Homo sapiens: one gene and its partners. The protein of the gene in region 2 purifies or fractionates together with the protein of the main gene of each other region. This does not show direct contact. Each region holds a gene or a part of one and is shown on either strand. Other genes may lie near its edges.

Region 1 (3,652 bases), on a different chromosome or scaffold from region 2:
AGGTTACAGGCGTGTACCACCACAACCGGCTAATTTTTGTATTTTTAGTAGAGATGGGGTTTCACCATGTTGGCCAGGCTGGTCTTGAACTCCTGAGCTCAAATGATCCACCCACCCCAGCCTCCCAAAGTGTTGGAATTACGGGCGTGAGCCACCATGCCCGGTCTGAAGTCTTTTTTTTTAAGCTATTGATACTAAGAAGGACAGTCAGACTTGATCCCAAGCTGCTAGAAGCTGTATCTCACATAAATCACTTTTGGAGAAACATCCTCTTATTTAACATTTTAGAAACGTGTACTTGAATTCATAACTGTAGAGAATTACTGCCTTCTGAAAATGAATAAGAACTGAAGCTTTTATTTAGTGTGGCTGTATTAGTCCGTTCCCATGCTGCTGATAAAGACATACCCGAGACTGGGAAGAACAAGAGGTTTAACTGGAATTACAGTTCCACATGGCTGGGGAGGCCTCAGAATCATGGTGGGAGGCAAAAGGCACTTCTTACACGGCAGCAGCAAGAGAAAGTGAGAAAGATGAAAAAGTGGAAACCCATCAGATCTCGTGAGACTTATTCACTACCATGAGAACAGTATGGGGGAAACCGCCCCCATGATTCAAATTATCTCCCACTGGGTCCTTCCCACAACACATGTAAATTCTGGGAGATATAATTCAAGATGAGATTTGGGCGAGAATACAGCCAAACTGTATCATTCCACCCCTGGCCCCTGCCAAATCTCATGTCCTCACGTTTCAAAACAAATCATGCCTTCCCAACAGTCCCACAAAGTTTTAACTCATTTCAGCATTAACCCTAAAGTCTGCAGTCCAAAGTCCCATCTGAGACAAGGCAAGTCCCTTCCGCCTATGAGCCTGTAAAATCAAAAGCAAGCTAGTTACTTCCTAGATACAATGAGGGTTACAGGTATTGGGTAAATATAGCCTTTCCAAATGGGAGAAATTGGCCAAAACAGAGGGGTTACAGGCCCCATGCAAGTTCAAAGTCAGCAGGGCAGTCAAATTTTAAAGCTCCACAATTATCTCCTTTGACTCCAGGTCGCACATCCCGGTCATGCTGACGCAAGAGGTGGGTTCCCATGGTCTTGGGCAGCTCCACCCCTGTGGCTTTGCAGGGTACAGCCTCTCTCCCTGCTGCTTTCATGGCTGGTGTTGAGCATCTGTGGCTTTTCCAGGTGAACGGTGCAAACTGTCAGTGGATCTACCCTTCTGGGGTCTGGAGGACGGTGGCCCTCTTCTCACAGCTCCACTAGGCAGTGCCCCAGTAGGGACTCTGTGTGGGGGCTCCGACACCACATTTCCCTTCCACACTGCCCTAGCAGAGGTTCTTCATGCACATCCCACCCGTGCAGCAAACCTCTCCCTGGGTATCCAAGAGTTCCCATACATCCTCTGAAATCCAGGCGGAGGTTCCCAAACCTCAATTATTGATTTCTGTGCACTCACAGGCTCAACAACACATGAAAGCTGCCAAGGCTTGAGACTTGCACCCTCTGAAGCCACGGCCCCAGCTCCACATTGGCCCCTTTCAGCCATGGCTGGAGTGGCTGGGAAGCAGGGCACCAAGTCCCTAGGCTGCACACAGCATGGGGACCCTGGGCCTGGCCCACGAAACCATTTTCTCCTGGGCCTCCAGGCCAGTGATGGAAAGGGCTGCCAGGAAGGCTCTGACATGCCCTGAAGACATTTTCCCCATTGTCTTGGGGGTTAACATTTGGGACGGCAAGAGAAAATTAGAAAGATGCAAAAGTGGAAACCCCTGATAAGACCATCAGATCTTGTGAGACTTATTCACTACCACCAGAACAGTATAGGGGAAACCACCCCCATTATTCAAATTATCTCCCACCAAGTCCCTCCCACAACACATGGGAATTAGGGGAGTATAATTCAAGGTGAGATTTGGGTGGGGACACAGCCAAACCCTATCAGTGGCATTACTTTCCCTATCATATGCAATCAAGAAAATACTACCAAAAAATACTTCTTGGCAAATCATTGTTTGGAAACACCACTCAGGCATCTACTTGAGAACTGACAAACTACAGAATCAGTTGTCACTAACAAAAAGCAGATTTTCAGGGCCTTGTGGTGGAACTCATAACAGAAAGTGGCAGACACTCTTGACTTTGCAACCTTTCTATGCCGATTTTGTGTATAGAATTGAGCTGGGTTTTCCTTGCCAATGGAATCCTCTTCTAGGTAAATGAGTCCCACCTGCCAAGAATGTTAGGGAAGCTGATGAGTGACAACATTTTGTAAATTATCACAGTGTGCCTTGCCTTCATCTATGGAAATTAATATAGGAAATAGCAGATTAGGGACTTCTAAAATGCATGAAAATTTTTAAATTAGTTCCAAATGATTTCTGAAACATCCAAGGCATTACAGAATCATAAGAATAGTTAAGAACATACAATTCTCAACTAAGTAAATTGTACCCCTGGGTTTTGTGACAAGTAAGTTATTTTTCCAAAAAGATGGCTTTTCTTTCCTATATTTGATTTCAGTTACACTGTTTTCGTTCAATCTGTTTCCTTTGTTCCATAATGAAATGATCTCTTGTTTTGAAACTGAAAAATAAAATATGAGCAGATATGTATACTAATGCATCATTTTCCAAATCTTAGTTGTAGAGAAAATGGACAATGTCACAGGTGGCATGGAAACATCTCGCCAAACCTATGATGACAAGCTCACAGCAGTGGAAAGTGACCTGAAAAAATTAGGTAATCTGTGACAAGACTAAACCATGAAATCCCCTGACTCTACATAAATGACCACAGCTTCTTAGAATGATGTTGCTATAAACTCCCCATTCACCCGGAAGGACATTCAATTTTTGTGTTGCATGTTGAGTCTCCCCTCATGATTTAATTCAAATGCTTAAATTTTAAAGTTAAGGGTCAGTTTTGGAATTAAGTCCTGCCAAGAAAACTATTATGTGCCAAATAATATCTGAAGATCAATCCTGACTGAAAAAAAACACAAATACCCTTTATTAAAAACTGTCACATAAATAGGAATTTACTGAGCATTTTTGAAATACTTTAAACTACATAGAATTGTAGAAATTAAGTTATAAAGTGAAAGATCCTAGCATATTCTATTCCTTGATTTTTGCTTTCATTAAAAAAAAATTTGGGAAATTTAAAAGGTTAGTTTCTTCTTGACAGCCTGCCCACTGCCCTAAAATCTAGTAAATTCCCCCTCCCTCTTTGAGAAAAATGTTCAGCCAAGTTTGTCATTCCTAGTTCTGAGCTTCTTTTCCGATTCCCCAGGACCCAGTTTTAATAGATATGTACATTTTACTAATGCAGAGCTGTCCGCTTATACTGCCAATTTTGCATCTAAAATACAGTGCATACCGATTAAGTGTGTTCGGGATCTTTGGCCTTGCCTGAACACTTCTCCATACCACCAATATAAGTCACAGATATTTCTTATTCCAGGTGACCAAACTGGGAAGAAAGCTATCAGCACCAACTCAGAACTCTCCACCTTCAGATCAGACATTCTAGATCTCCGTCAGCAACTTCGTGAGATTACAGAAAAAACCAGCAAGAACAAGGATACGCTGGAGAAGTTACAGGCGAGCGGGGATGCTCTGGTGGACAGGCAGAGTCAATTGAAA
Region 2 (3,652 bases):
AGGTGTTCAATGTTAAGGAGAGCACCCCAGGCAGGGAAAAGGATCAGCACAAAGGCATAAAGGTCAGGAACAGCCGGGCACAGCCTGATCTATTCAAGCTACTTGGTATTCTTGGGACATAAAGGATGGGTGAGTGATGAATTTGGACAGGTTCACCAGCACTAAATGGTACATCCCATGTGAAACAGTTTGGATTTTTTTTTCCCTATGAGCAATGGGAAGCACTGCAAGGTTTTGAGAAGGATGGTAATATGTCCAGATTTGCACTGGAAAAACGTCAACCTGGTGGAAGCTGAACCAGAAGAAGGTACTCCTAATGAGGACAGAAACACCAATGATAACACAATGGCGAAAGTCCCAGTAAGAGATGGGTATAAATCAGGGGTTCGAAAAGTGTGGTCCCAGACCATCAGCATCACCTGACAACGTGGTAGAAATGCAAATTTTCAGGACCACCATAGCCCTACTGAATCCAAAATTATGTTTTAACAATCTGCTTCAGCAAGCCCTCTGGGGGTTCTGATGCCCAGAACTAGTCATCTAAACCAACCATTGGCAAACTCTAGCCTGTCAGCAGTGTCTTTTTAATAAAATTTATTTTATTATGAGCGTAGCCATGCTCATTAGTTTACTGTCTTTTTCTTTTGCTTTATAATTACGAACAGAGTTGAGTAGTTGTAACAGAGATCGTACAGCCCCAAAGCCTAAGATATCTAGTTCTTTGTCCTTTAAGAAAAAAAATTAAGCTAATAGTTCTCAGCCCAGATGCCAGTAGATCCACCTAGGCATTTAAAAAAGAATACTGATGCCAGACACCCTCACCAAAAAAAAAAAAAAATCACAGTTCTGGAGGTGGGTCCCCAGGCATCAGTATTTTCAAAGCTCCTTGGGCGATTCCAGTGTGCCCCCAAAGTGGAGAAACACTGGGCCCAGCTAAAGCAGCAGTGAGAGCTGGGAGGAATAAGGACATTGGGGCACTAGGAGATGTGTGAAGAAGTGGGGCCTCTGACCCCAGACCAGGAACCGGGCAAAGCAGTAAAGTGGAACGTCACTGCTGCCCACCAAGCCCTCATTTGTTAGCCCCCATTTCTTCAGTGGCTGCCCCAAACACTCCCTTCTGTCTCTCAGCTGCCCTCTTGTCCACAGGCCAGTCAAAGAGAACTGCCTGAAGTTTCCAGAATCTCATGATTTTGTGTCTCCATGCCTGCAAACCCTATTTGCTTGGCAAACACCTACTCATCCTTCAGGATGAAGTTCAAGAGCCATCTTCTCACAAAGCATCTTTTGATCTTTTCCCCACAGATCTCTTCCCTCCCCCTAGAAGATTCCTTTTCCCTTCTTTTTGTTCTGCCCCCAACCCCAGTTCTCAGTACCTGCTTCTAACCTATCAGCCTTATACCTGTCTGTATGTCTTTCATGCAAGTCTGTACTACTAGCCTGTAAGCTTCTCAAGGGTACCTATCACACCTTATTCACCTTTTTACCCAGCACACCACTGGGCCTCAATAAAGCATCGGGTGAGGGCATGAATGCTAGGTACTTTGTTAAAGGCCTTACATGTGTGAACTCATTGGATCCTCACTGTGATGCAAATATTATTGTCTCCCCCTTGCAGATGAGAAAAGTGTAGCTCAGAGAAGGTAAGTAACAGGCTCAAGGTCATACCATTTGGGGTATCAGGAAGTCAGAAATAAGGCTGTGTGGCCCACTAGCCCATGCCGTCCTTATCACACACGTGCACCATTTACAGTTGGTTTCCCGTGTTCATTTGGTCACCGTGACCAGGTTATAAGCAACTTGAGAGCAGGAACTTCCCACCTCACACCATCTCTACAACTGCCCAGTTTCCTTGGGCCCATTTCCCTGGATTTGGTCAAGGAGATGCATGTTGCAGTAAAAAAGAGGCTGATGAGATGGAAGACTCTACCCTCTCAAGAGACTGTGCCCTCCCCAAACGCGACTCCCCTCTCCCACTTACTTTGGGTTCTTTGTAGCTGTTCCTGTGAAGTAATGACCACATGGAGGGTCTTCAGGCGACTCTGCTCCTGCTGGATTTCCATGGTTAGAGCTTTGGTGTTCTCTAGATCCCCTCTTAACCTCTGGATCTCGGCACTGGCCTTCTGCAGATTGCTGTCTAACATCTGGGTCTGGGAAGTTAAGGCTGAAGCATTCTTCATTCCTTGTTTTAGGGTCTGTATCTCTCTGCTGGCATTTTTCATATGACCATTTAAGACCTGAATCTGGGCATTTAAGGTATTCACATTTTCCATCTCTGACTTGAATACCTGAATCTGAGTATCTGTCTGGTCCAGACGGCCATTTGCTTTTTGGGTCTGGGCTGTGACCATTTTCAAATCCCTTTTTAACACGTGAATTTCATCACCAGCTCTTTCCAAATGACCTCTTAAGAACTGGATCTCAGCACTAGTGTTGTCAAAACTGCTTTTTATAAAGGCCTGGGTCTGGGAGTTTAAAGCATTTGTGTTCTGCAAATTTTCCTTTAGTCCCTGGATCTCAGCATTGGCTCCTTCCAAACTATTTCTTAAAACCTGGTTCTGGGTCCTCAAGTCATTGACACTATCTAGATGGCCTCTCAAAACATAGATCTCAGCATTAGCGTTCTTTAAACTGCTATTGGCTAACTGAGCCTGGGTATTTGCCGTTTCCAAACTGGCATTCAACATCTGAATTTCAGAGTTTGCATTTTCTAAGCCTCTGCTTAGCACGTGGAGCTCAATGCTGGTGTTTTCTAAACTGCTTTTTAAGAAATTCAGCGTCTGGAAAGTTAAAGCATCTGCCTTTTCAAGGTCTTCCTTGAGCCTCTGGATCTCAGCATTGGTTCCCTCCAGGGAACTCCTTAACATCTGTGTCTGCAAACTCAATGTAGTGGCATCCTTTAGAACTCCTTTTACCATCTGGATGTCAGCATTGGTGTTTCCCAGATGATCACCGAGCACCTGGAGCTGCGAATTGACATTGTCCACTCTGCACTTCAACATCTGGATTTCTACTACCCAGGCACTGGAATTCTCCATGTGGCCTTTAAATGTCTGGATAAGCTCTCGCATTTCTGCCTCCCTGCCAAAGTGGTGATGATCTGGAGGGAGGAAGTGAAGAAGGCAGCCAAAGAGGCCCATTATGTAGGGTAGCATTTTATGGGCCACCCAGAGTGTTTCTAACATTTCCAAGGGAAATGGGTACTGCACAGCCCTCAGTGCTCCCCCAAGCACCCTCCTGGTCACACAGCCACCCAGACCCTGGGGACGGTCCACCTGAGAATGTGGGCCAAGAAACAAAGATCTAATTCACTGTTACACACAAATGAAGGGGTCAGAAGGATTGAAATGCTTGCCTGCTGTAAGCCAGCTGCCACCAGGAGTCATGCTGGTAAGGCTTGGATTATTTTGTCGTTATAATTGCTCAACTTGAAAGTAACTGATTTTATCATTTAGAGCTGTTGAAGTTTAATTTTACTGGAATTTCACCACAGATGGGTCATTATGGGAAAGAAAATAGGTATGAATAAAGCCTGTGGTTAGTCCTACATTATATTTGTACACCAAGCATAGAGCCTCTTGATTCACCATTGTTACTTGATAAAAACCACCACAAACATAAGTTTTATGATGGCAAATTCCATGGAGAAGAAAAC
Region 3 (3,652 bases), on a different chromosome or scaffold from region 2:
TGGGTCCCTGTAAGACTTCCTTCTTCTAAGCCCAAGTCTCCAGGGTTCCTAGATCCTGCGAAGATTTCAAGGAAATATCTGAAGTTATAAGATGTGGCTAAGGACGCAGTTTCTGGCTTAACACAAGAAAATTAAATCTACCTTTCTTCTGCTCCTTCCTCAAGCTTTCTAGTCACCTAATATGACTTATGAAAAGAGAGTATTAACTAGAAGGAACCAGACAGAGCCTCTGTCACCCAGGTGGGAGTGCAGTGATGCAATCATAGCTCACTGCAGCCTGGACCTCCTAGGCTCAAGCGATCCACCTCAGCCTCCTGAGTAGGTGGAACCACAGGTGTGTGCCACCCTACCCAGCTAATTTTTATATTTTTTGTAGAGATGAAGTCTTGCTGTATTGCCCAGGCTGTTCTTGAACTCCTGGGCTCAAGCAGTCTTCCCACCTCAGCCTCCCAAAGCACTGGGATTACAGGCATGAGCCACTGCACTTGGCTAATTTTTTAAATTTTTTGTAGAGACAGGGTCTTGCTATGTTGCACAGGCTGGTCTCGAACTCTTGGCCTCAAGCAATCCTCCTGCCTCGGCCTCCCAAAATGCTGGTATTATAGGTGTGAGCCACTGCACCCATCCAAGAGCTTTTTTTCTTCTAGATTTCAAGAGGCCTCTTTTCCTGTCCTAAAAGATGGAGCTAAATTCTCTAACGTGCCCCATGCAGTGCCCACAAAATCTTCCTTTTCTTTCCTTTTCTGGGCGTCCTTGGGGCCCTGTACTTGCTGTCACCTGTGTCTGGGGTTCTCTTCTGCAGGTCTTTCCAGGCCTTCCCTGCATCCTCTGCCTTCCCTCCCCCGGCCACTCCCCGTCTTAGCAGGAGCCACTGCCTGGACTTCCCTCGCGTACCTGCTGCTGGTTTCATGTCACCTTCCCTGCCTGAATGTAAGCTCCCTAAGGACAAGGACTCCATCTTGTGTCCTGAATCCTGCCAGACTTCAGCCTTTTATCAGTGGCTGGTGTGGAGCGGTCTTTGGTCGCTTGCTGGAGGGTCCATCAAGGCTGTGTGAGGGACCTTCTTGTGGGTCTAGCAAGATGTGGCTCTGGGCCGTGCTGGTGGGTGGTGGGGTGGCCTAACGCACTCCTGGCCTCTCTTCCTCCCAACCCCCAGGCAATAGCGCCTTTAAGTCACCAGATGCGTTCAAGGTGTCCCTCCCACTCCGCACAAACTACCTATACGGCAAGATCAAGAAGACGCTGCCTGAGCTGTACGCCTTCACCATCTGCCTGTGGCTGCGGTCCAGCGCCTCACCAGGCATTGGCACCCCCTTCTCCTATGCGGTGCCAGGGCAGGCCAACGAGATCGTGCTGATCGAGTGGGGCAACAACCCCATCGAGCTGCTCATCAACGACAAGGTGAGGCCCGCCTGCACCGCCACCCTCCCCAGAACCCATCATGTGGTGGAGGGAGCCACAGCCCCCACCCCAGCCGTCCTCGCCCTCCTCGGGCCACACAGCAGTGTCCCAGACATGGGACTGCGGGGCTGTCCTCCTCGAGGTGGGGATAGCTTTGCACACGCCGGGCGGCTCACAGGGGCGGGGTGGGGAGGGGCCGAGCTGTGAGTCCAACCACCAAGCTGCAGAAGGTCCAGGCACCTAGGCCATGGAAGGGCAGAAGGAACAGATCTCCGTGTGCAGCCTGGATTGAGAGAGGACCTCAGGCCGGTCAGTGAGGGCTGTTCCCCAGGGCCACACTGATTAAGGGGGTGTGTGTGTCTCAGTGTAAGAGACTCCCCACAAGCATATTTTGGTGGGGGTCAGGTTTCTAGAGATATAATTTACATACAGCAAAGTGTACCCATTTTAATGTACAATTCAGGAAGTTTTAACAAATGCACACAGTTGTGTAACCACCACCACGATGAAAAAATATAAAACAGTTCCATCACCCCCCAAAACCCCCTCATACCCCTTCATAGTTAACTCTGATCCCAGCCCCAGCCCATGGCCATTGCTGACCTGTTATGTATACCCATGGTCTTGCCTTTTCCAGAGCAAATGCCCCTTCTTAATAGACTGCTTGGTTTTGGCATTCAGGAGTGGTCTTCTCAAGGGCTGGGCATGGTAGCTCATGCCTGTAATCCCAGTGTGTTGGGAGGCCGAGGCAGGAGGATTGCTTGAGCCCAGGAGTTCAAGAGCAGCCTGGGCAACATAGCAAGACCCCTTCTCTACAAAAAATTAGAAAGTTAGCTAGGTGTGGTGGTGTGCACCTGTAGTTCCAGCTACTCGGGAGGCTGAGGCAGGAAGATGGCTTTGAGCCCAGGATGTCGAGGCTGCAATGAACTATGATCGCACCACTGTACTCCAGCCTGGGTGACAGAGCGATACCCTGTCTCAAAAAAAAAAAAAAAAAAAAAAAGGCCACTTTGGGCCTCCTGGGGACCTCTCACAGCCCTGCTTCCAAACTTTCATTCTAATGGCAGACTCCATATAACAAAAAGAACATTCTCAGAACCTGTCCGGATTTGGGCATTTGAGTGGCTACGCAAACTCCCTGCCACCCGGGCCACCCCTGGTGGAGGCGGGGGCAGTTCAGCCCCTCACTCTGTTTGTCCTCACTGAACTGCCCTGGGTGGAGTCTGTCGAGGTTTAAAAAACGCTGTGGCATCAGCCTGCTGGGCTCCTCCTAGATAGACCCCCTTGCCTGAGCCAGGGGTTAAATAATTGTTCTAAATAACACCCTATGACACAGTGGGGCTAAGAGCCTTGTTGTCCTCTGGGTTTGGACGGCTTGTAAACATCGAATTCCTGGGAGGGAGGCTTCGGGTTGCTAGGAGACCAGCAGCAACAACGCGGTGGTTCATAGGCGAGCCTGCATAGAAAGTGCTTGCAGGACCGCCAGGGACCCGGCCAGTGGCAGCGTCCTCCCCCCAGTTCCTCACGCTGTCCGTGAGTTCCCTGCTCACACAGATACTCACACACGTGCCGCTGCGCAGGGAGGACGGGGCACACCCGCAGCACACAGATCCCTGCGTGCCATCATGGAGGTTTGGGACTTGGCATGAGGAATGAGGATCTCTCGTCTGTTTTCCAAGGAGACTGGCCCCATGGAACGCTGACTTCCCGAGTTTCTCTGGCATGGAGAGCTCAGGGCCAGCGTGGGGGTGTTGACCCTCACATCTGTTCGGTCCTCAGCCACGCCAGGCACCAAGGGTGTCCCATTAATGTGAGGGCTGCTCTGGGGTCAGGGTTTCCACCAAGGCTGCCCCCTTGCATGTTCTCCACGCATGACCCCGGTGACAGGAGGAGCAGTGTGGCCCAGGGGGACTGTGGGGTGTCCTTCCTGCTTCCTGCCCTGGGGGACCCTGAGGGCGTGGGCCCAGCAGGTCCTTACCTGCACATTGCTGCTCACAGGTTGCGCAGCTGCCCCTGTTTGTCAGTGACGGCAAGTGGCACCACATCTGTGTCACCTGGACGACACGGGATGGCATGTGGGAGGCATTCCAGGACGGAGAGAAGCTGGGCACTGGGGAGAACCTGGCCCCCTGGCACCCCATCAAGCCCGGGGGCGTGCTGATCCTTGGACAAGAGCAGGTGGGTGCAGGGCAGGTGCAGGTGGGCACAGGGTGGGTGCAGGATGGGCACAGGGTGGCCGTGCGCCCTTTCA

The links.
Region 1: the proteins of CLEC4F (region 2) and COLEC12 purify together in Homo sapiens (affinity purification with mass spectrometry; one large-scale study listed by BioGRID and IntAct). This does not show direct contact.
Region 3: the proteins of CLEC4F (region 2) and NPTX2 purify together in Homo sapiens (affinity purification with mass spectrometry; one large-scale study listed by BioGRID and IntAct). This does not show direct contact.

Annotation. Positions count from the first base shown.
Region 1 is NC_000018.10:347,160-350,811, reverse strand, and holds part of COLEC12 (collectin-12), read left to right. Parts: intron 1-2,648; coding exon 2,649-2,747; intron 2,748-3,470; coding exon 3,471-3,652. UniProt on the Homo sapiens protein: Scavenger receptor that displays several functions associated with host defense. Promotes binding and phagocytosis of Gram-positive, Gram-negative bacteria and yeast.
Region 2 is NC_000002.12:70,814,016-70,817,667, forward strand, and holds part of CLEC4F (C-type lectin domain family 4 member F), read right to left. Parts: intron 3,474-3,652; exon of another isoform or gene 3,183-3,473; coding exon of another isoform or gene 3,098-3,182; coding exon 1,979-3,097; intron 1-1,978. UniProt on the Homo sapiens protein: Receptor with an affinity for galactose and fucose. Could be involved in endocytosis.
Region 3 is NC_000007.14:98,623,766-98,627,417, forward strand, and holds part of NPTX2 (neuronal pentraxin-2 precursor), read left to right. Parts: intron 1-1,156; coding exon 1,157-1,401; intron 1,402-3,399; coding exon 3,400-3,579; intron 3,580-3,652. UniProt on the Homo sapiens protein: Likely to play role in the modification of cellular properties that underlie long-term plasticity. Binds to agar matrix in a calcium-dependent manner.